Homo sapiens: one gene and its partner. The protein of the gene in region 1 interacts with the protein of each later gene in a pairwise test. Each region holds a gene or a part of one and is shown in the gene's direction. Other genes may lie near its edges. The genes, in order: ZC3HAV1 and RIGI.

Region 1 (11,195 bases):
TCAGTGTCAAACCACCCATCTTCAAGATTTTTACACATCAGATTACGCCAAGTAATTTGATAGCACTTGGATAGCAAAGCTACAAAAGTGAAGAGGAGGAAGGGTGGTAGGAACTCAGTCACATTAACTCCAATGTTCATTATTTTGTTTCATTTTGGCTTTTTTTCCCCTTAGCTCCTTCTTCACATCGTAGAAACATGGCATATAGGGCTAGAAGCAAGAGTAGAGATCGGTTCTTTCAGGGCAGCCAAGAATTTCTTGCGTCTGCTTCAGCGTCTGCTGAGAGGTCCTGCACACCTAGTCCAGATCAGATCAGCCACAGGGCTTCCCTGGAGGACGCGCCTGTGGACGATCTCACCCGCAAGTTCACGTATCTGGGGAGTCAGGATCGCGCTCGGCCTCCCTCAGGCTCGTCCAAGGCTACTGATCTTGGAGGAACAAGTCAGGCCGGGACAAGCCAGAGGTTTTTAGAGAACGGCAGTCAAGAGGACCTCTTGCATGGAAATCCAGGCAGCACTTACCTTGCTTCCAATTCAACATCAGCCCCCAACTGGAAGAGCCTCACATCCTGGACGAATGACCAAGGCGCCAGGAGAAAGACTGTGTTTTCTCCCACGCTACCTGCCGCCCGCTCTTCTCTTGGCTCTCTGCAAACACCTGAAGCTGTGACCACCAGAAAGGGCACAGGCTTGCTTTCCTCAGACTACAGGATCATCAATGGCAAAAGTGGAACTCAGGACATCCAGCCTGGCCCTCTTTTTAATAATAATGCTGATGGAGTGGCCACAGATATAACTTCTACCAGATCCTTAAATTACAAAAGCACTAGCAGCGGTCACAGAGAAATATCATCACCTAGGATTCAGGATGCTGGACCTGCTTCCCGAGATGTCCAGGCCACTGGCAGAATCGCAGATGATGCTGACCCAAGAGTAGCACTTGTTAACGGTAAATACAAAGGGAAGACACTTTGGGCTAGTACATTTGTTCATGATATACCAAATGGCTCTAGTCAAGTAGTGGATAAAACTACTGATGTAGAAAAAACTGGTGCCACTGGTTTTGGCTTAACAATGGCAGTCAAGGCAGAAAAAGATATGTTACGTACTGGAAGTCAGAGTCTGAGGAACCTGGTCCCCACCACACCTGGGGAATCCACTGCCCCTGCACAAGTCAGCACTCTGCCTCAGTCACCTGCTGCCCTTTCCTCAAGCAACAGAGCTGCAGTCTGGGGGGCCCAAGGGCAGAACTGCACCCAGGTTCCTGTTTCCTCTGCCAGCGAGCTCACAAGGAAGACAACAGGCTCTGCTCAGTGTAAGTCACTGAAGGACAAAGGGGCCTCTGTGTCTTGAGTCTGCAGCAGAGTGGCTATGGCTGGTGGTTTTTCCTTGGATGTTCCCCAGTTCTTAAAGGGTAGAGAGTTAGAGGGTTTTGGTTATGGGGTGGTCTGGTGAGGAGATTGACTAGTGAAGACAGGGAAGGGCCAACCAGTAGAACCACAGGGAATAAACTGCCACATTTATTGACAATAGGAATATTTCAACTATGATTTAAGAAATAAACATAGCTTTCACAGGACTCTGAGGTCCACATTTTTGTTTTATGGAGGGGCTGTCTAGATGCTCATGGGCAAAACATAAATCATAGGAATTTTCTTGAACATGGCCCCCATTTCAGATATTCTTTCCCATTGTGAGACCAAGTGCTTTGATTTTTGGTTTAAACATTAAGATCAGCATACATGCATCCTTTTTTGTTTCATAGATTCTTTATCTGATGTCACAAGTACCACATCTTCTAGGGTGGATGATCATGACTCAGAGGAAATTTGTCTTGACCATCTGTGTAAGGGTTGTCCGCTTAATGGTGAGTAACCTAAGGACTTTTCTGTAAGCTTCCACCTTTTGGCCATTGTAAATAACACTGCTATGAACATGGGTGTGCAAATGCCTTCTGAAAACCCTGCTTTCAATTCTTTTGGATATATACCCAGAAGTGGAGTTGGGGGATCATATAGTACTTCTATGTTTAATTTTTTTTTTTGAGGAACTATTATTCATAGTGGCTATACCATTTTTCTTTCCCACCAGCAATGCACAAGCGTTCAAATTTCTCCACATCCTCACCAACACTTGTTCTTTTTGTGTGTGTTTGTTTGCCTTTTTTGTTTGTTTGTTTTGAGACGGAGTCTCACTCTGTCACCCAGGATGGAGTGCAGTGGTGTAATCTCAGCTCACTGCAACCTCTGCCCCCTGGGTTCAAGTGATTCTCCTGCCTCAGCCTCCCAGGTAGCTGGGGTTACAGGCGTGTGCCACCCCGTCCGGCTAATTTTTGTATTTTTAGTAGAGACGGAGTTTTTGCATGTTGGCCAGGCTGGTCTTGAACTCCTGACCTCAAGTGATCCACCCGCCTCGGCCTTCCAAAGTGCTGGGATTACAGGCATGAGCCACTGTGCCCAGCCACTGTTTGTCTTTGATAGCAGCCATTCTAACAAGTGTGAGGTGTGGACTATAATGAGTGGTTGTGTACTTTTCAGTCAGCCAAGTCTCAAGTAGGGCCACTCTATGGGTGTCCCTGCAGTGTCTAAACCTGTCTTTTTTGTTTGTTTTGAAGTTGTCACACATCTTCATTTTGAATATTTCAAAACAATTTAAACATAATATAAGGCAAATTTTGAAAAACAGAACTATCTTCTGTCTTCCTGTACTGTAGCTTATAACATCAATTCATTCTTCAGCCGGCATTCCTGCAATGGCTGTCTTTTGTATGCCTAGCCCTGTGCCAAATATGTAAGGGGGATGTAAGCTAAACCATAGTGCAGCCTTCTCTTTAGTAAGTTTATAATTAAGGTAGGGCATGAAAACATCCATAAAATGCCAGGCATGGTGGCTTACGCCTGTAATCCCAGAACTTTGGGAGGCTGAGGCAGGTGGATCACTTGAGGCCAGGAGTTCAAGACCAGTCTGGCCATCATGGTGACAACCCATCTCTACTAAAAATACAAAAATTAGCTGGGCGTGGTGGCACATGCCTGTAATCCCAGCTACTAGGGAGACTGAGGCAGGAGAATTTCTTGAACCCGGGAGGTGGAGGTTGCAGTGAGCCAAGACTGCGCCATTGCACTCCAGCCTGGGCGACAGAGTGAGTGAGATTCTGCCTCAAAACAAAAACAAAAACAAACAAAAAATTTGCAAATGGGAAAACTGCGTGAAGTAAGTAAAAACATATAAAAAATTAACCCCCAACTGACTATTGGGTACTGGCTAAAGGAATGCAAAAAATACAAGTCAGATGGGGATGGAGTGAGATTCGTTAAGAGAATCTTTCTGGAAGAGATGAACTGTAGGCCAGGGCTTCAAGGAAATAAAGGCTGTTGCCTCTGCTGGAGAGCATTTTGGCTTCATACACTTGGGGGGGTGCAGAAAGGGTAACTAAATTTCTGGTTACCTCGAATTTCTATCTGGGTGGAGTGACTTTGGGGGCAGTGGGGAATTTTTGTTTCCTTTTCTTTTTCTTTTTTTTTTTTGAGACAGAATTTCACTCTGTCACCCAGGCTGGAGTGCAGTGGGGTGATCTCGGCTCACCGCAACCTCCACCTCCCAGATTCAAGTGATTCTCCTGCCTCAGTCTCCCGAGAAGCTGGGATTACAGGCACCCACTACCATGCCTGGCTAATTTTTGTATTTTTAGTAGAGACAGGATTTCACCATGTTGGCTAGGCTGGTTGTGAACTCCTGGCCTCAAATGATCCGCCTGTTTCGGCCTCCCAGAGTGGTGGGATTACAGATGTGAGCCACCACACTCTGCCTGAATTTTTGTTTTCTGATGAGTCTCCAAGGTAATGAAGGAACCTGGATAATGGACACACAGCAGTGTCAGCTGGTATAGATGGAACCTGTCTGGCAGGGGGCAGGGCAGGCATGGATGGGGAAAGCTGGCAGTGAACTTGACTGAATTGGTTAGAATCCCTGCTCAACAGTCCCTCAGACCCCTTCTTTGTCTTTGTAGGTAGCTGCAGCAAAGTCCACTTCCATCTGCCTTACCGGTGGCAGATGCTTATTGGTAAAACCTGGACGGACTTTGAGCACATGGAGACGATCGAGAAAGGCTACTGTAACCCCGGAATCCACCTGTAAGTTGGTGGCTGTACTCTGGCTTTCAAGAGTCCAACATTATCAAAGGGAAGCATTAGTGCTAGGCTCAGGGGAAAAAGAAAAAAACACTTTTCCATCAGAATCCCATTCGAGTGTGAAATACCTCTTGAGATAAAAAATGGCAAATGCCTGCCGAGTTAATGAAGGAAAACCACAGCTGGGTGGGTTTGAGGTCACACTGAGCCTGGCTAATACCAGAGATCCTGGGAATGTTTGCTAACTCAAATGAAACAAACAGTGACATGATTATTTGTTTAGTTGACAGTTGTCTGTGTCCTGCAAAAAAACACAGTTCAGTGTCCGGCTCGTATCCTGATCAGTTCATCACAGAACTATTAAAAGTACTAAATGATTTAGGACAAAAGAGCCTTTGGCTTAACTTCATAATTTAAAAACACGGTTTGAATAATTTCATATAGTTTTACTGTAGAATTTTGTTGTATACTTTAGCATTTAATACCTCCCTTATGTTTGCTATTTTCTCTAGCAAGGCATCTAAGAGGGTACCTTACATTTCTGCTTCTGGCCGAGCGTGGTTGCTCATGCTTGTAATCCTAGCACTTTGGGAGGCTGAGGCAGGAGGATCACTTGAGCTCAGGAGTTCGAGATCAGCCTGGGCAACATGATGAAACCCTGTCTCTACCAACAATACAAAAACTAGCCAGGCATGGTAGCACGCACCTGTGGTCCCAGCTACTCGCTACTCGGGAGGCTGATGTGAGAGGATCACTGGAGCCCAAGAAGTTGAGGCTGCAATGAGCCGTGATTGTGCTACCACACTCCAGCCTGGGTGACAGAGTGAGACCCTGTCTCAAAAATAAATAAGTAAAAACATTTCTCCTTCTGGAAGAGCTGAAATGGGTGATACCCATATGACCGTATTTATCTATGGTGTGCAGGGATATAAGAAACATCCCAGTTTTATAAGGAAATTCTTAAGGGGGAAAAGTTACATTACTTTTCATCATATGAGAATTTAGTGATTTGAGGGTGGAGATTCTGTGTTGCTGGATTTTTACCACTAGAGGGCGACATGAGCTACTTTCTGGTTGCTAGGTCTATATTTCCGCTCCCAGGCAAGTGGAGAGCCGGGTTTCTCAACCTCAGCACTACTGACGTTTTGGGCCAGATTCTGTTTAGCACTATTCCTAGCCTCAATCCACAGATGACAGGAAGCACCACCCCCCCACCAGCCCCACTGGTTGTCCTAACCCAAAATGTCTTCAGATGTTGTAAAATACCCACTGAGGTCAAAATCGTTCCTGATTGAGAACCACTGATCTAAGAGGTCTTTCTTAGAGCAGCAATTCTCAAACTTTTTGGTCAGAGGACTCCTCAACACTTAAAATGTATTCAGGATCCCAAAGAATTTCTGTTTGTGTGGAATATAGCTATCAATATTTACCATATTAAAAATTAAAACTGAGAACAATTATATATTTGATTCACTTAAAAATAAGAATAAGCTTGCTATATGTTAACATAATGAACATGTTTCATGTAACTATATTTAATACTATATACATATTCATGTATATCCATTTAATATACATACCCAGGTATATAACTGTGTGTATTTATTTACATATTTATATATAATATTTATATGGATAATTATAAAATAACTGTTTTCCAAAACAAAAAATTTATTGAGAGGAGTTTTATATTTTTGCAAATTAATGTCTGGCATAATAGAAGATAACTAGATTCTCATATCCGCTTCTTTATTCAACCTGCTGTGAAATCATATATTGTGTAGCCTCTGGAAAATTTCATCGTGTATTCCTGAGAGAATGAAAGTGAAAAAAGCAAATAATGTTTAATGTTATTATGAAAATCACTTTAACCTTGCCAATTTTCTGCAAGGGTCTCCACATTTTGATAACGATTTAAATAATAATAAATAATTTTAAAAATGGACCAAATGCGAATTTCTAACTTACTTTATAACATTGAGCCAATCAGGAGTTTTGTGGGCACAGTTTTATTTTGGGATATTTTCTGAGGGAAGAATACATTATGTAACACCATTAATTATGTGGTGCAGGCGAGTCACTTTCCTCTCTGCGTTTCCGTTTTTCTTTTATGTGTAGGACCTGGAGCCATGGAAAGAAAACTTGAAGATCTATTTTAGCCCTGAAAGTTTAATTCTGTGCTCTCATTAGGGAAGACGAGATTGTAGAAAACAGGGGTCAATGAAGCATTATGTTAACTTAATACTTTTCTCTCTCAGCTGTTCTGTAGGAAGTTATACAATCAATTTTCGGGTAATGAGTTGTGATTCCTTTCCCATCCGACGCCTCTCCACTCCTTCTTCTGTCACCAAGCCAGCCAATTCTGTCTTCACCACCAAATGGATTTGGTATTGGAAGAATGAATCTGGCACATGGATTCAGTATGGAGAAGAGGTGAGCACTGTTCCTCCTTGTAGGGGGCTCTTGTTTAAACTTGTCAACTTAAAAAGAACACTGTTGGCTGGGCACGGTGGCTCATGCCTGTAAGCCCAGCACTTTGGGAGGCTGAGGCAGGTGGATCACCTGAGATCAGGAGTTCGAGACCAGCCTGGCCAACATGGTGAAACCCCATCTCTATTAAAAATACAAAAATTAGCCAGGCGTGGTGGCAGGCGCCTATAATCCCCGCTACTCTGGAGGCTGAGGCAGGAGAATCTCTTGAACCCGGGAGGTGGAGGTTGTAGTGAGCTGAGATTTCGCCACTGCATTCCAGCCTGGGGGATGGATTGAGACTCTGTCTCCAAAATAAATAAATAAATAAAATAAAAAGAACACTATTAATAAAATGTTTGAAGCCTACATGGTTACCCGTGGAGTGTGGTAGAGGAAGTGGTATTTTTTTACTTTGTACACAGCTATATTCAATTTTTTTTCAGCAAACATGTACTCCAATTGCAGTCATACATTAAAGTATATATTAATTTTTATTTTTATTTATTTATTTATTTTTGAGATGGAGTTTCACTCTTATCACCCATGCTGGAGTGCAATGGCGTTATCTTGGCTCACTGCAACCTCCATCTCCTGGGTTCAAGCGATCTTCCTGCCTCAGCCTCCCGAGTAGCTGGGATTACAGGCATGCACCACCACCACACCCAGCTAATTTTTGTATTTTTAGTAGACATGGGGTTTCAACATGTTGGACAGGCTAGTCGTGAACTCCTGACCTCAGGTTATCCGCCCACCTCGGCCTCCCAAAGTGTTGAGATTACAGACGTGAGCCACTGCGCCCGGCCATATATTAATTATTTTTAAGGAACCGCTTGAGACATGTCAGCTGCACTTCCCTCTTTCCTCACCATGAGAGGGGAGGGTGGAACCTTGAGATAGCTTTCTATGTATAAACACATAAAATGTACAGAGACTACTGCTTTGAGCTGGAAAAGAGGGTGAGAGTGAGAACTTAAAGGACTGTATGGATGATGGCATGGTTAATTAGACCAGGGAATGTGTTAATTCACTCAAGCAGTGAAACCACATCTGGTACAGATAGTCACTACTATTCATTCAGAGTCTGGATTTAGATGGACTTAAAGGACTGGAACTAGAAGATCCTAGGCTGACCCATAGTGGGGGCATAGTAATAGGGAGGGAAGTTTAGGTGAGCAGAGCCTCTGTCCTTCTGTCTCAGTGTCCCTTCCTCCCTTTAACTCATAGGATTAAAGAGAGAGAGAAAACAGACCTTAAGCAGGTAATGGAATCAGGGTGATGAGAAACAGAAAATGAAAGCAAGAGATTAAAATGAAGCCAAAAATAATGCATGGGCTGGGTGCGGTGGCTCACTCCTGTAATCCCAGCACTTTGGGAGGCCGAGGTGGGGTGGATCACCTGAAGTCAGGAGTTCGAGACCAGCCCGGCCAACATGGTGAAACCCTGTCTCTACTAAAAATACAAAAAATTAGCTGGGTGTGGTGGCGCGTGCTTGTAATCCCAGCTACTCAGGAGTCTGAGGCAGGAGAATCGCTTGAACCTGCAGGCAGAGGTTGCAGTGAGCCGAGATTGCACCACTGCACTCCAGTCTGGGTGACAAAAGTGAGATTCCAAAAAAAAAAAGATAATGCAGGGACAAAGGAATGGCAGCGTAAGGTTCTACATATTTAGGTTGGTGTAAAATTACTTTTGGGTTGGTGGTAATTACTTTTAATGGCAAAAACTGATTACTTTTGCACGGAACTAATAATTACGAGTCAGTGGGCTATACATTTGGCTCTGAGCTGCCTAACTGCCAAAGCAAACAAAATACTTGGGAGAGGCACTACTCTGTTATGTTAGTGAGGCCTGAGAAAAACACCTCCTATAGTGGGCCACATGGCGGGAACCCTGTGTGCTGTGGTGAGGTCCTCAACCACAAACAGCCCTACCATGAATTCAGCAGCATATTGGTTTCCAAACTGTCTTAGCAGCAGATACATTTTATCAAACCATCTTTCAAAGACTCTAAACGAGCCAACTAGAGTAGAGCAGGGCTGCCCTGGTGGAATAGGATATGGGCTCAGAGCTGTCTCCTGGACCCCTCCTTGTTGCTCTTCTCTCTCCTGTGGTGGCCCATGTAGCATCTCTGTGGAACAGAGTTCTGCTGAAACTCCCGTGTGTGTGAAAACACCTATGATATTAAACTTTGCACAGATTCTTTGTATGCTCAAGCCAAGGATGATGTCAAATAAGCGATTCTGTCAGGCGCCTGTGGAAATAAAATTATAAACCCAAATTAATTAGCCTTGGTTAAAATAAAAATAAGCTATAGGTCTTGATGGTTTTTATGTCAAATAATTGGAATTTTTAGTAAGATATAAAGGGGAAGGGTTGGCAAACAAACATTTGCATTCTAGTTACATCAAGGTTCCAGGAGGCCGGGCGTGGTGGCTCATGTCAGTAATCCCAGCACTTTGGGAGGCCAAGGCGTGTGGATCACCTGAGGTCAGGAGTTCAAAACCAGCCTGGCCAACATGGTGAAACTGTGTCTCTATTAAAAATACACACAGAAAATTAGCTGGGCTTGGTGGCGTGCACCTGTAATTCCAGCCACTTGGGAGGCTGAGGCAGGAAAATTGCTTGAACCAAGGAGGTAGGGGTTGCAGTGACCCGAGACTGTGCCACTACGCTCCAGCCTGGGTGACAGAGTAAGACTCCAAAAAAAAAAAAAAAAGGTTTCAGAAACCAAAAGGAACTATTTGGGGGAAAGATACTGTATTTAAATTTAAATTTACACAAGTTCAATCATGTTCTCTAATAAAACATCAAGAAACTTCCTGAGCTTTTTTTTTTTTGAGACAGAGTTTTGCTCTTGTTACCCAGGCTAGAGTGCAATGTTGTGATCTCGGCTCACTGCAGCCTCTGCCTCCCAGGTTCAAGCAATTCTCCTGCCTCAGCTTCCCCAGTAGCTGGGATTACAGGCATCCACCACCATGCCTGGCTAATTTTTTGTATTTTTAGTTGAGACGGGGTTTCACCATGTTGGCCAGGCTGGTCTTGAACTCCTGACCTCAGGTGATCTGCCTGCCTCTGCCTCCCAAAGTGCTGGGATTACAGGTGTAAGCCACCGCACCCAACCCAGCCCTTCCTGAGGTTTTTTTTTTTTTTTTTTTTGAGACGGAGTCTCGCTCTGTCGCCCAGGCTGGAGTGCAGTGGCGCGATCTCGGCTTACTGCAAGCCCCGCCTCCCGTGTTCACGCCATTCTCCTGCCTCAGCCTCCCAAATAGCTGGGACTACAGGCGCCCGCCACCGCGCCCAGCTAATTTTTTATATTTTTAGTAGAGACGGGGTTTCACCATGTTAGCCAGGATGGTCTCGATCTCCTGACCTCGTGATCTGCCCGCCTCAGCCTCCCAAAGTGCTGGGATTACAGATGTGAGCCACTGCGCCCGGCCTCCTGAGGTTTTTAATACAAAGTTCTCGCTGGGACATTTAGTCTGTGTTAGCTGTAGAGTTTTTATTTTATTTATTTTTATTTTTATATTCTGGATTCCCATGAAAACTGTGGAGTTTTTAGAATGTAACATTCAATCTGCAAACACATGAATGTTGTATTCATTAAATGTGACACAGGTTTGTTGGATGTTCACTGAAGATGTGAATGAACTCTTACTGTCTCATACTAATAAGACCCATCATTATATAAATTGAATTGGCTCTAGTTATTAAAAAAAAAAATAAGGAAAAATCAGGCCCTGGGTTTAATGTTTTCCTTGCTGGGAGTCCAAGTAAAATTAAAATAATGTTTCCAGGAGATTTGAACCCCACATATCAAGAACAGCCTGGTTTCTTTCATGGATCAATGCATTGTGGTCCAAGTTTGCAGCTCTTTGGTGACCTGCCTTGAGCCAGCGTACAGGCTAGAATATTTAGAGAAAGGAGTGGACTGTGAAGCCTTCTGCCAGTGCCCCACAGCTTTTATTTCTTGTAACTGAATTTTGAATAAGTCAGGCAACTAAGAGTTGTGGGTTGGAACCTCCCTAAGAGGAACGTGAGGAGTAGAAACTTCTGCCAACAGAGTAGGCACATATGCTTTGATTATGAGCTCTCAGGGAGGTAAAATAGATATCCTTTTATGGAAATTGATGTACTTAACCAGGACTCATACCTACATAGATGGTGGGCAGGGAGAGGGTGTGGTATTAGGAGAAGTGATGATTGAATCGATGGGCAGTTGGGCAGCAATGGTGTAGGGTAGAGTGATAGCAGGGCTGACAGGAGGGTAGAGCCTGGGAGTCGTTGAATGTGCACCAGTTAGGGAGTGCAGATTCAGGTCCTCGAAGATGTTTACCAGCAAAGTAGCTAAGCTTAGCAGCTGTGGAAGCTGGTGTTGAGAAACAGCGGGAGGCTATGGCCTGAGAGACCCTCTCAGAACAAGGACAAGCCACAGCTCTAGAAAGCCAAGGTTGAGGCAATCATTGACACACAGGATAAAAGCTAAGACCTGTTTACTGCAACTGAAACATAAATTCAAGTCTTGTGGGGAATAAATAATTGACGGCTGTGTGATTCATTCATTTACTCAGACCTGGAGTAACAGTACTGTTCTCTAGGA
Region 2 (11,195 bases), on another chromosome or scaffold:
TTGAGAGAAAATATCATTTGAGAACTTGAAGAACGACAAAGCATTATTGCTCCTTAATAAGAAATTGCTTTGAGAATCCAATGTTAACAGTTTGGTTTTCTTCAAAGATCGTGGGAGGATTTGTTGCTTTTTTCACATACAGCATTGCCTTTAGTAGACAGCTTGTCTTACCCTGAATGGGGCCATTCTTTCTTTGGTTTCTGTTAGCCTTCCATGATTGTATAAAAAATAATTCATGTTTTTTTTTTTTTCTTTCTTGCCATCAATACTTTGTCACTGAGAGAATTCTGTACTTCAAATTAGTGGAAAAGCTAGAATGGTTACCAAGAGAAAGGATTCTAAACTTTCTCCAATGAGGATCTTCTTGCTGGAGTCAGAATTTGTGGACATTAGACTGTAGCTATTGCCGTGATTCCTCAGAGCAGGAACTGTTTGGTAATTTTGCTCCTTTTGTATTCCAGAAGTGTCTGATACAAACTTGTACAGCCCATTTAAACCAAGAAATTACCAATTAGAGCTTGCTTTGCCTGCTATGAAAGGAAAAAACACAATAATATGTGCTCCTACAGGTAAGCCTATTGCCATTACTTACATAGTTTTTCTGTTTGCTTCCTTTTTTTTCTTTTGTTGAATACTGGGACAGAATGGGCAAGTTTCAGTTTTTTCCTTGTTCCATGTGTCTTTTGAGAAAACTGTCCTAATATAATCCTAATGTTTTTTATGGGATTATGTAATTAATTAATTATGTACATTAATGTATTTAATGTATTTTCTTTACCTTTCATGAGAAGGTAAAGAAAAGTGTCCTCTTTTAGCTTGCTTTTGGGTCCTGGCTGTTGGCATGCTACTTAGGGAGCAGCTTGATATTTTTTAGTCATAGTGTAAATTCTGTAATCATTAACATATTTAAATTATCAATTAATTAGTCAGCTCAGTGGTATTAGAAGAGCCAAAAATAAACACCTTTCCAGAGAAATATCTAATATATGAGTTACATGTTTTCTTTTTTCCTTACATGTTAAAAGGTTGTGGAAAAACCTTTGTTTCACTGCTTATATGTGAACATCATCTTAAAAAATTCCCACAAGGACAAAAGGGGAAAGTTGTCTTTTTTGCGAATCAGATCCCAGTGTATGAACAGCAGAAATCTGTATTCTCAAAATACTTTGAAAGACATGGGTAGGTATAATAGTTGCTTCAACTTCTTTTTCTCCAGCTTCATGTAATTGATGTGTTTTCTGTTTTGTTTTTGACAAATGATTTAAAAAAATTTATATTAGATTCAGCTTTTTTATAATCCAGATGTTATCCCTTCATGGATTCAAGTCTTTTTTGTTAGATGTACCAGAAAACTTAAACTCCCCTGGTTTGCCCTTCTATGGGGAGTAAATGACTTCAGGAATAAATTTGATGTTTACGTGGCACATTTAACTTCTTTAGTGATTTTATAATTTATTTGATATTATTCTTTTACGTACTCTTTTCTCTCTTAGTGACTTAAAATAATATATAGTACTATAAATTACAACTAGCTTGGATTTATTGATCTCTTACTATGTGTCAGGCTCTGTGCTAAGGACTTGCCTACAGCTATTCTTCTTTTGGACTCAGGGAGAATTTAATCAGTTGATGTTCTGATCTAGCATTTCATCTTTGTGGTTCCTTATCCACATCGTGGTTAGTAATATGGAATTTCTGTCATTTCCCAGGTATAGAGTTACAGGCATTTCTGGAGCAACAGCTGAGAATGTCCCAGTGGAACAGATTGTTGAGAACAATGACATCATCATTTTAACTCCACAGATTCTTGTGAACAACCTTAAAAAGGGAACGATTCCATCACTATCCATCTTTACTTTGATGATATTTGATGAATGCCACAACACTAGTAAACAACACCCGTACAATATGATCATGTTTAATTATCTAGATCAGAAACTTGGAGGATCTTCAGGCCCACTGCCCCAGGTATCTCCAAAGTCAGACGAATGCTTCAGAAGAGCTATAATCTTCCTAACTCCTATTTTCTTACTCTTATGGCCACACTGAAGATGTCCTTCTCAGGTCCCAAGTCCATATTGTACAACTCATTATGAATTTTGTTTCCTTTATTCATTTGTTCACTTAGTAAATATGCATTATGTGCCTCCATGTGCCATACACTGTGTGTTAGTAAAAACAAAAAAACGCCCTACCCCAGCAGGAAAGAGTTATATGAGGGGTTGTGGAAACATTGTACCATTTCTCAGACATCTAATGATTTTGAATGCTCCTTACAGGTCATTGGGCTGACTGCCTCGGTTGGTGTTGGGGATGCCAAAAACACAGATGAAGCCTTGGATTATATCTGCAAGCTGTGTGCTTCTCTTGATGCGTCAGTGATAGCAACAGTCAAACACAATCTGGAGGAACTGGAGCAAGTTGTTTATAAGCCCCAGAAGTGTAAGTTGGATCCAATAACAAGCCTTTGAGATTCTGTTACTCTCTACTACCTCTAGTTCAGAGCCATCTAGACGAATACTGAACTTTGACCCTCTCTCTGTTTAGTAGAAAATATTTAACCTTGAACTTGAGTAACAGTCACATTTTTTAGCCTCTCTAACTGAGCTCTCATCCCAAGCAATGGATGAACCTCAGAAGTGGCCTGTAGAGAGCAAACATTCTTCCTCTTTGCTTCCAAAAACCTCTTATAAATGTACTAGCAATGCAAAAGAGGTGATGAGAGAATTTAGGCATCAGATAGCCAAGAGCTGGGCTCACTCAGCCTTTTCCCATGCTCTGTGCCTGTGTGGTCATCACTGTTTGAATATGTATTTGATCATTTTAGTTGAAATGGAATGATCTGAATTCATGATGTCACTCCTCCAAAGATCAGATATGATTTTTTAATATGACTAACAGTTGTTTATTGATGTTATTATTACACTAACCCTGAAAGGAAGAGAGGGATACAGAAAATATATATGACTTCACCCTTGCTCTCTGAGTAGTATGTGACTGTATTTCTGAGGTAGAACAAATAGACATGTAATAGGGAGTGGTGTAGATAAGTTCCTTTTTGAAGGCTGCTTGTAAGTAAGGATTTTGATGTACCTGATCCCAACTTTTCAGTGTCACATATGAATTTCTTTACAATCCGGTTCCTCCTGCCCTCTGAGCTTCATCACCTCCAAACATTCATAAACCCAACCATGTTGCATTCCTCTGGGCTCCTCAATCATGCCGTGTGCTTTCTCTCTCCCACCTTTTGTCTGTGCTTCCTTTGTACATCACTGCTCTTTTTTTTTTTTCTTTTTCTTTGCCAAGTTGTGATGGAATATACATGACTACTCTTGCTTTCTTCTTTCTTCTTCCTGTATTTATTCTACAACTCTGACTTCCCTGGAAGAATTAGGTGTTACTTTCCCTGTGTTTTGTGACACTTTGCGTGTACTACTTCTTTTTTTTTTTTTTTTTTTTGAGACAGAGTCTCGTGCTGTTGCCCAGGCTGGAGTGCAGTGGTGCGATCTCGGCTCACTGCAAACCTCCACCTCCTGGGTTCAAGTGATTCTCCTGCCTCAGTCTCCTGAGTAGCTGGAATTACAAGCGTGTGCCATCACGCCTGGCTAATTTTTTGTATTTTTAGTACAGACAGGGTTTCACCATGTTGGCCAGGCTGGTCTTGAATTCCTGACCTCAAGTGATCCACCCTCCTCGGCCTCCCAAAGTGTTAGGATTACAGGTGTGAGCCACCACACCCGGCTACACTTTACATGTACTTCTGTTAGAGAACTGCTACGGTTAGTTAGCCATGTATATTTCTCTCCCTTAAGATCACAGCCCTGTATGGAGCATGAAGTGTGTTCTTTCAACTGTCTATAATCAAAGCATGGCACATTGCAGGCAATTAATAATTAGGCTGAAATAATATATTGATAAATGGTAGGATCAGTGTGAATACTGCTGGGAGCTGTGTGGGGAGGGAGAATATCAAAGCACAGAGACAGGGTTAGATTGTGGCACTTGCAGAGACATGAGAGATGCCCGCCTCATCAGAGAGGAGGTAACAGGACAGCCACAGTAAGAAGCTGGTTAGGCCGGGTGCGGTGGATCACGCTTGTAATCCCAGCACTTTGGGAGGCCAAGGCGGGTGGGTCACCAGCTCAGGAGTTCGAGACCAGCCTGGCCAATATGGTGAAGCCCCGTCTCTACTAAAAATACAAAAATTAGCTGGGCATGGTGGTGTGCGCCTGTTGTCCCAGCTACTTGGGAGGCTGAGGCAGAAGAATCACTTGAACCTGGGAGACGGAGGTTGCAGTGAGCCGAGATCGCGCCACTGTACTCCAGCCTGGGTGACACAGTGAGACTTGGTCTCAATCAAAAAAAAAAAAAAAAAAAAAAAGAAGCTAGTTAGACCTACACCATGAAAGACAGGTGTTAGAATCAGTACAAGAAGCAACAGGGAGCCATTGCATTTTGAGCATTTGTTGTATCATCTGGACCACCTGCCAGTTAGCCTGGAACCTTAGGTTTTTCAGAGGAAGTATCAAAGGCAGAGAAAGGTTTTAGAGATACCTACTTTGAACTACAATCTGTCCTTCCTGAAAATATACTCACTCTTTTTTTCTTTTTCTTTTTTTTTTGACGTCTCTAGTTTTCAGGAAAGTGGAATCACGGATTAGCGACAAATTTAAATACATCATAGCTCAGCTGATGAGGGACACAGAGAGTCTGGCAAAGAGAATCTGCAAAGACCTCGGTGAGATAAATCTCATATTTTGTGTTCTCTCTACTGGGGAATAGCCATTTATTGTTCACTATCGTCTTTTTGTGTTCTCCTTAGTTCAGACAATGTCAAGACCATATCCAGAGGTTGTCTTCCTTGATTATAGGTTATTTAGGAGCCTTATATGTCCTCCTCTATTCTTTCTTTCTTCCTTTTTTTCCTTTTAAATCCAAAGTAAGTTCATCCAGACACATGCACCTGAAAAATAACCATACTTAAGTCAGTTCATTGCTTTCTCTACCTTCTAAATCAGCTTTCCCTCCTGACTTTCCTGTTCACCTGAATGAAACCACCATTCCTCTACTGGCTCAGATTTATATCTAGGGACAATCACCCAGCACATTTCCCAGCATTAAAGGAGTGCGACTAGAGATGGGCCAGGGGAAGACAGTGAAGGGCCTGGATTTGAATTTTATCCTAAAAACAATGGGGAAAAAAGTGAAGATTAAAACTGATTAGTGACGTAATAAAGATACCAGTGAATGAGAAGGACCAAAGAGAGGCAGTAGAGATGGATTGGAGAAGGAAGGAGACACATGTGAGATGCTTCCAACTGTGAGTGTTATGATTGAATGGCTAAACGGATTTGGGTGGGGATGAGAAAGGGGCAGGAGGGGCTGATTTCCCCCCAGGCATCTGGCTTAGGCACCTCTATGAATGCCAGTGGGTGGTCCTGGTACCAGGACTAGAAGCAGCCTTGGCAGGTACAAGGTTTTGAGTTTTGAGTTTTAGGGATGTTAAATGTGACGTCTGTAAGACACCTCATGGAGTGTCTCCTCTCACACTTATTTTGCTTTTCTCTCCCCTTTTCTTTCACAGTTTAATTTCTATTATAATTGTTCTAACAGCCTTCTAGCTGATTTTGCCTACCTCTGCTCTCTCTTCCATTCAACCTCTCATGAACTAGTTAGTCTTCATGAATACATTTTATCATGTCCCTGTCCTGCTTAAAAACCCTTTGCCTACAGGATAATCTTCACGCCTCTAACCTGCAGTCTGAGCCCTGCCTGAACACCCAGGTTCTACTTATCTTTCCAATGTTATATTCTACTACTTCCCTACCTGAATCCTTTTGATTTAGCAGTTTCCCGAATGTGTTCATGCATATGTTCATTCATTTAGTGCTAAGGAATGGGCTAGGTGATGGGAATACAGCATGAACCCTAAGATACAGCCCCTGGCCTCAGGGCATTTCTAGTCTGATGGTAAGACCAAAATTAGAGAAGTAATACTAATACTAAAGCAGCTGGTGTGGTGGGGGTGATAAGGTGTGTTTCAGGCACAGGGAATAGCATATGCAAAGGCCAGGAGACTAGAAAGAGTATAGGGACTTCCATTAGTCCTGTAGAATGCTGAAAGGAGAGTGGCCAGAAATGAGAAGCAAAAGCAAGCAGAGGCCAGAGCATGGGGAGGAGTGTGTGAGCTGGGGCAGGATTTTGGCTGCAGGACCACTAAAGGCTTTTAAGCAGTGGGGTGGGATGATTTCTCATCTGCAATTTTGCAAACTCCCTCTAACCACTGGGTAGAGTATGGGTTAGAGGGAACAAGGCAAGAGGAAGGGAGACCAGTTTGGAGATTGTCATATTATCCAGCAGCACACTGATGTGGTTTGAATTGGGGAAGTAGCAGAAGGATGGAGAGACGGTGATGGAGTCACGTGAGTTTCTATTTTCTTACTCCTCCCACCTCCCGTACCCTGCCTCCACCTTTTTGCCAGTCCGAATCCAGTTAGCTGCTCATCTCTAAACTGCTTAGGCTATTTTTACACCTACCCAGGTTCAATCAGTACCTGTTGGCTCATCTTCTTTACTGCTGGCCACCTCGCTGTAGCTGCAACTTGGAAAGAAGCATGTCAATACTACTTGTTTGGGTAGCCTCCTTTGTTCCTATTATTGAAAATGAATGAGTGAGGGGAAGAATTTAACCCAGAAATACAGCTCTTGCTTGTGACTTTTGTTGTACTGTGCTCTTCATGAGGAGCCCTGGCGAACTGATACCAGAGTAACTCACAGACTCAGCTGCTTGAGAACACAGCCATAGTCTCCTCATCTTATCCCCAGCACCCTACACAGAGCCTGGACCACAGCAGATGCCCCAGCTTTGAACCAAGCAACTGAGGCTTATCCTAGGAGATGCACACAGACAGATGCATGTGTGATAAGTGTCTTTTGAGGGCCGATTCTATGCTTGGCCCTGAGAATGCTGCTCTGGAGAACAGGAGGCCCAAGTTCACAGCAAAGCAGAACATAGGGTGAACTGAGTCCTAAATCTCCTCCTTGATTTTTTTTTTTTTTAAGAGTCTCACTCTGTCGCCAGGCTGGAGTACAGTGACGTGATCTCGGTTCACTGCAACCTCCGTCTCCTGGGTTCAAGCGATTCTCCTGCCTCAGTCTCCTAAGTAGCTGGGACTTCAGGTGCGTGCCACCACCCCCAGCTAATTTTTGTATTTTTAGTAGAAACGGGGTTTCACCCTGTTGGCCAGGGTGATCTCAATCTCTTGACCTCGTGATCCACCCGCCTGGGGCTCCCAAAGTGCTGGGATTACAGGCATGAGCCACTGCGGCCGGCCAATCTCCTGCTTTTATATATCCTCCTCTGATGAAGCTCTTGAGACCTGTTATTTTTACTTCTTCATTTTTAAAGGCAAAGTTGGGTTTTTCATGTCTACTGTTTTATTTCTGGGCTGCTTTGGTTGTCAGCTCATAGAGCCAGTAGAGCTTGGGCATCTGACACATGTGGGTTTGAATTCCTGCCCTTTCTCCACGTACTTGCTGTGTGACTATGGGTAAATTACTTATTACTTGGCTTTTCTGAACTTCAGTTTCCCAATATATGAAATGTAATATGTATCTCATGGGTTGTGAAAATTAAATGAAATTATGAATGTAAGGTACTTTGATTCTTGGTACACAGTACTCAAGAAACAATCAAACACACACACACACACACACACACACACAAACAAACACACAGATGCACTGCTTAAAACTCAAGGGAGGGAACAAGGCAAGAGGTAGGGAGAACAGTTTGGAGGTTGTCATATTATCCAGCAGCACAGTGGTGTTATCTCAATGGGGGAAGGAGCAGAAGGATGGAGAGATGGTGATGGAGTCACATGAGTTTCTATTTTCTTACTCCTCCCACCTCAGGTACCCTGCTTCCACCTTTTCACCAGTCTGAATCCAGTTAAATAGTTTTAACTAGATGACTTAAGACTATTTCAGGAGGAATATCCTGTTTGCAGAGAGTAAGAAAGAAAATTAGGCCAGGTGCAGTGGCTCACGCCTGTAATCCCAGCACTTTGGGAGACCGAGGCAGGCGGATCACCTGAGGTCAGGAGTTTGAAACCAGCTTGACAACATGGTGAAACCCTGTCTCTACTAAAAATACAAAAATTAGCCAGGCGTGATGGCACACGCCTGTAGTCTCAGCTACTTAGCAGGCTGAGGCAGGAGAATCGCTTGAATCCGGGAGGTGGAGGTTGCGGTGAGCCAAGATCGTGCCATTGTACTACAGCCTGGGCATCAGAGCGAGACTCTGCCTCGAGGAAAAAAAAAAAGAAAAAGAAAATTAGAGGGTGAGGCCTGTTTATAACCCTAAATGACTGACCATATGAGACAGTGAAAAACTTTTTTTTTTTTTTTTAACAGAAAACTTATCTCAAATTCAAAATAGGGAATTTGGAACACAGAAATATGAACAATGGATTGTTACAGTTCAGAAAGCATGCATGGTGTTCCAGATGCCAGACAAAGATGAAGAGAGCAGGATTTGTAAAGCCCTGTTTTTATACACTTCACATTTGCGGGTACGTTCCTCTTTTTAAGAGTCGTATTCTGGTCACAGCACCTACTGGGAGTGGCACCGTGGAAGCCAAGATAACATCAACTTCTCATCCTGTCCTCAAGAGCTCACTTAGGAACCTTTCCAGAAAGTTCTTATGAAGCAAACTCCAAAAGTTGTCCCATTCAACATCATCTCGATTTCCTTTCTGAAATTTCATACTGCAGGCAACAGGACTGAAATAAAGGCTCAGATTCTATGCCATGCCTCTAGCATTAACTGACATGGTTGGAAAAAATTGGGTGATTGTGAGAGAACATTATTCCAGATACAAGACCAGTCCAGTGACAGCATCTTGAAAGCTCAGCAAGTGGAAAGTTCTGTTGCTATGTCCTGAAGCACACATTTCTTCACCTTTGGTGACGCCCCATGCTCAGAAATCCAGGTTCTCTGGCTCACCAAGAAGTTAAGGAACTATAGTGACAGCTATCACCTCTGCTTATCCAGCCATTGAAAATATATTAAAATGCATTCAATTAGCATGCATTTGTAGAATTTTAGTTAGCTTAGTTGTACATTTGATGGATGTGGTCAGGGCCATCATTTTGGAAGGTACACTGACAATTTAGTGATGGCTTCAGATGTATATAGAAATCAAGTGAAATGTTGGAATTATGAGGCAGGTTGATGTGGAAGTTGATTTACTTTCCTTATTTTTAAATTTTGATATGTGTTTTTCGTGCAGTTTTTCTTTTCTAAGGTAAAATTCAATAATCCAAAGTGATGATAATTAATGTTACTAGCTAATTGAGTTTTCTTTTAACAGTATTTGGTTCAAAGATTTTGTTACATAACTGTTAGAGGCCATTCATCTTTAAAAAGCTAAGTTGGAATAGATTTGAAAAGAAAAGTTTTCTTAAAACAATTCGTTAAATACAACGAATTGAACTTAAATACAGTGAATGTGTTAGACATTGGAAGCATATTGAGACAGTTTTTACTTTCAACAGAAATATAATGATGCCCTCATTATCAGTGAGCATGCACGAATGAAAGATGCTCTGGATTACTTGAAAGACTTCTTCAGCAATGTCCGAGCAGCAGGATTCGATGAGATTGAGCAAGATCTTACTCAGAGATTTGAAGGTGAGTGGTGTTTTCAGAGGAGGAAGCCACAGTAGCATTCTTGGTGACTGGAATGGCAAAACAAACATGTATTGCATTTAATATATATAAACTTGGGGATGCTTAGGGAGTTGTCCTGGATGTAGGAAGATGGAGATGGTAGGACTATTTAGCTTCAATGAAATCTAGTACCTATGGGAAGAGTCTGTTGCTTATACCATTCCCTATTTAGAAGAAGGAAAAACAAGATTTGCAAAGGGTGTTTCCCATATGGTTCACAGACAGTAGCATTCTTTTTGTTTAACGTTCTTTTTTAGTAATTTTATAAAGCTTTAAAAATATGAAAAAGTGTTTTAACGATATTAAAAAAACCATAATTTATGTATACTTTTTTTTTTTTTTTGAGATGGAGTCTTGCTTTGTCGCCCAGGGTCAAGTGCAGTGGCTCAATCATGGCTCACTGCAACCTCTGCCTCCCGGATTCAGGCAATTCTCATGTCTCAGCCTCCCGAGTAGCCAGGACTGCAGGTGTGCGCCACCACACCCGGCTAATTTTTGTATTTTTAGTAGAGATGGAGTTTTGCCATGTTGGCCAGATTGGTCTCAAACTCCTGACCTCAAGTGATCCACCCGTCTCTGCCTCCCAAAATGCTGGAATTACAGGCATGAGCCACTGTGCCTGGCCTATATATATTTTTACATAAAGAGGAAACCAAAATGGCACATAATCTCACTGCCTGCATATGATTAAAAAATAGATATTAAACAAACAAAAAAAAGTTTTCCTTCTCCCTGTTTTGAATTCTTTCCCAAAGGTAATTAGTGCTAATAATTTTGGGGTTTTTTTGGCCTCTACCTAAGTATTTACTGTACATATGTGTAACCAGTGCTGTGCTGGTTAATATTTAACAACCCACTAGAGAAAAAATGTATGCATATATATGTACATAAGCTTATTATTTTATTGATATAGAGGAGTTATACAAACCACAATTTATAAATAAAAATAAACTATTCTTTATTGTAAATTCCACATAGCCAATTGGTTCTCATAGAATGCTTTTGGTGGTTTTTGCAGATTTTTTGTATCCATGGCCAACCAAGGGTTGCAATGACAAAGAAGTGTGGTTCTTTCTGATATGGTTGTTGGTATATAGTTTCATTAATGTTAGAAGATAAAGATGAAACAACAAAGGTGTATGTTGGAACTTCACTCGTTTGCCAGTGATGCAAGCAATTTTTTGCTGAACTGTATAATAGTTTTTCAAAAACTGGGAGAATGTTTCTCAATATTTTGTGCTATTCAATGTAATAGCTAAATTTAATCTGTATTATTATTTTTTGATCATGTTCATAAGTCTAAACTCTCAACATAAATTAAGCCGGGCATGGTGGCTCACACTTGTCACCATGGCACTTTGGGAGGCTGAGGTGGGTGGATTACTTGAGCTCAGGAGCTGGAGATCAGTCTGGGCAGCATGGCGAAACCCCATCTCTACAAAAAATACAAAAATTAGCTGAG

What was found.
Region 2: the proteins of ZC3HAV1 (region 1) and RIGI interact in binary tests that used the Homo sapiens proteins (3 or more experiments, as listed by UniProt).

The regions. Positions count from the first base shown.
Region 1 is NC_000007.14:139,069,223-139,080,417, reverse strand, and holds part of ZC3HAV1 (zinc finger CCCH-type antiviral protein 1), read left to right. Parts: intron 1-174; coding exon 175-948; coding exon of another isoform or gene 949-1,314; intron 1,315-1,764; coding exon 1,765-1,866; intron 1,867-4,008; coding exon 4,009-4,132; intron 4,133-6,387; coding exon 6,388-6,562; intron 6,563-11,195.
Region 2 is NC_000009.12:32,478,718-32,489,912, reverse strand, and holds part of RIGI (antiviral innate immune response receptor RIG-I), read left to right. Parts: intron 1-461; coding exon 462-569; intron 570-1,025; coding exon 1,026-1,179; intron 1,180-1,709; coding exon 1,710-1,968; intron 1,969-2,279; coding exon 2,280-2,442; intron 2,443-4,633; coding exon 4,634-4,738; intron 4,739-4,769; exon of another isoform or gene 4,770-8,415; coding exon 8,416-8,573; exon of another isoform or gene 8,574-9,558; coding exon 9,559-9,694; exon of another isoform or gene 9,695-9,741; intron 9,742-11,195.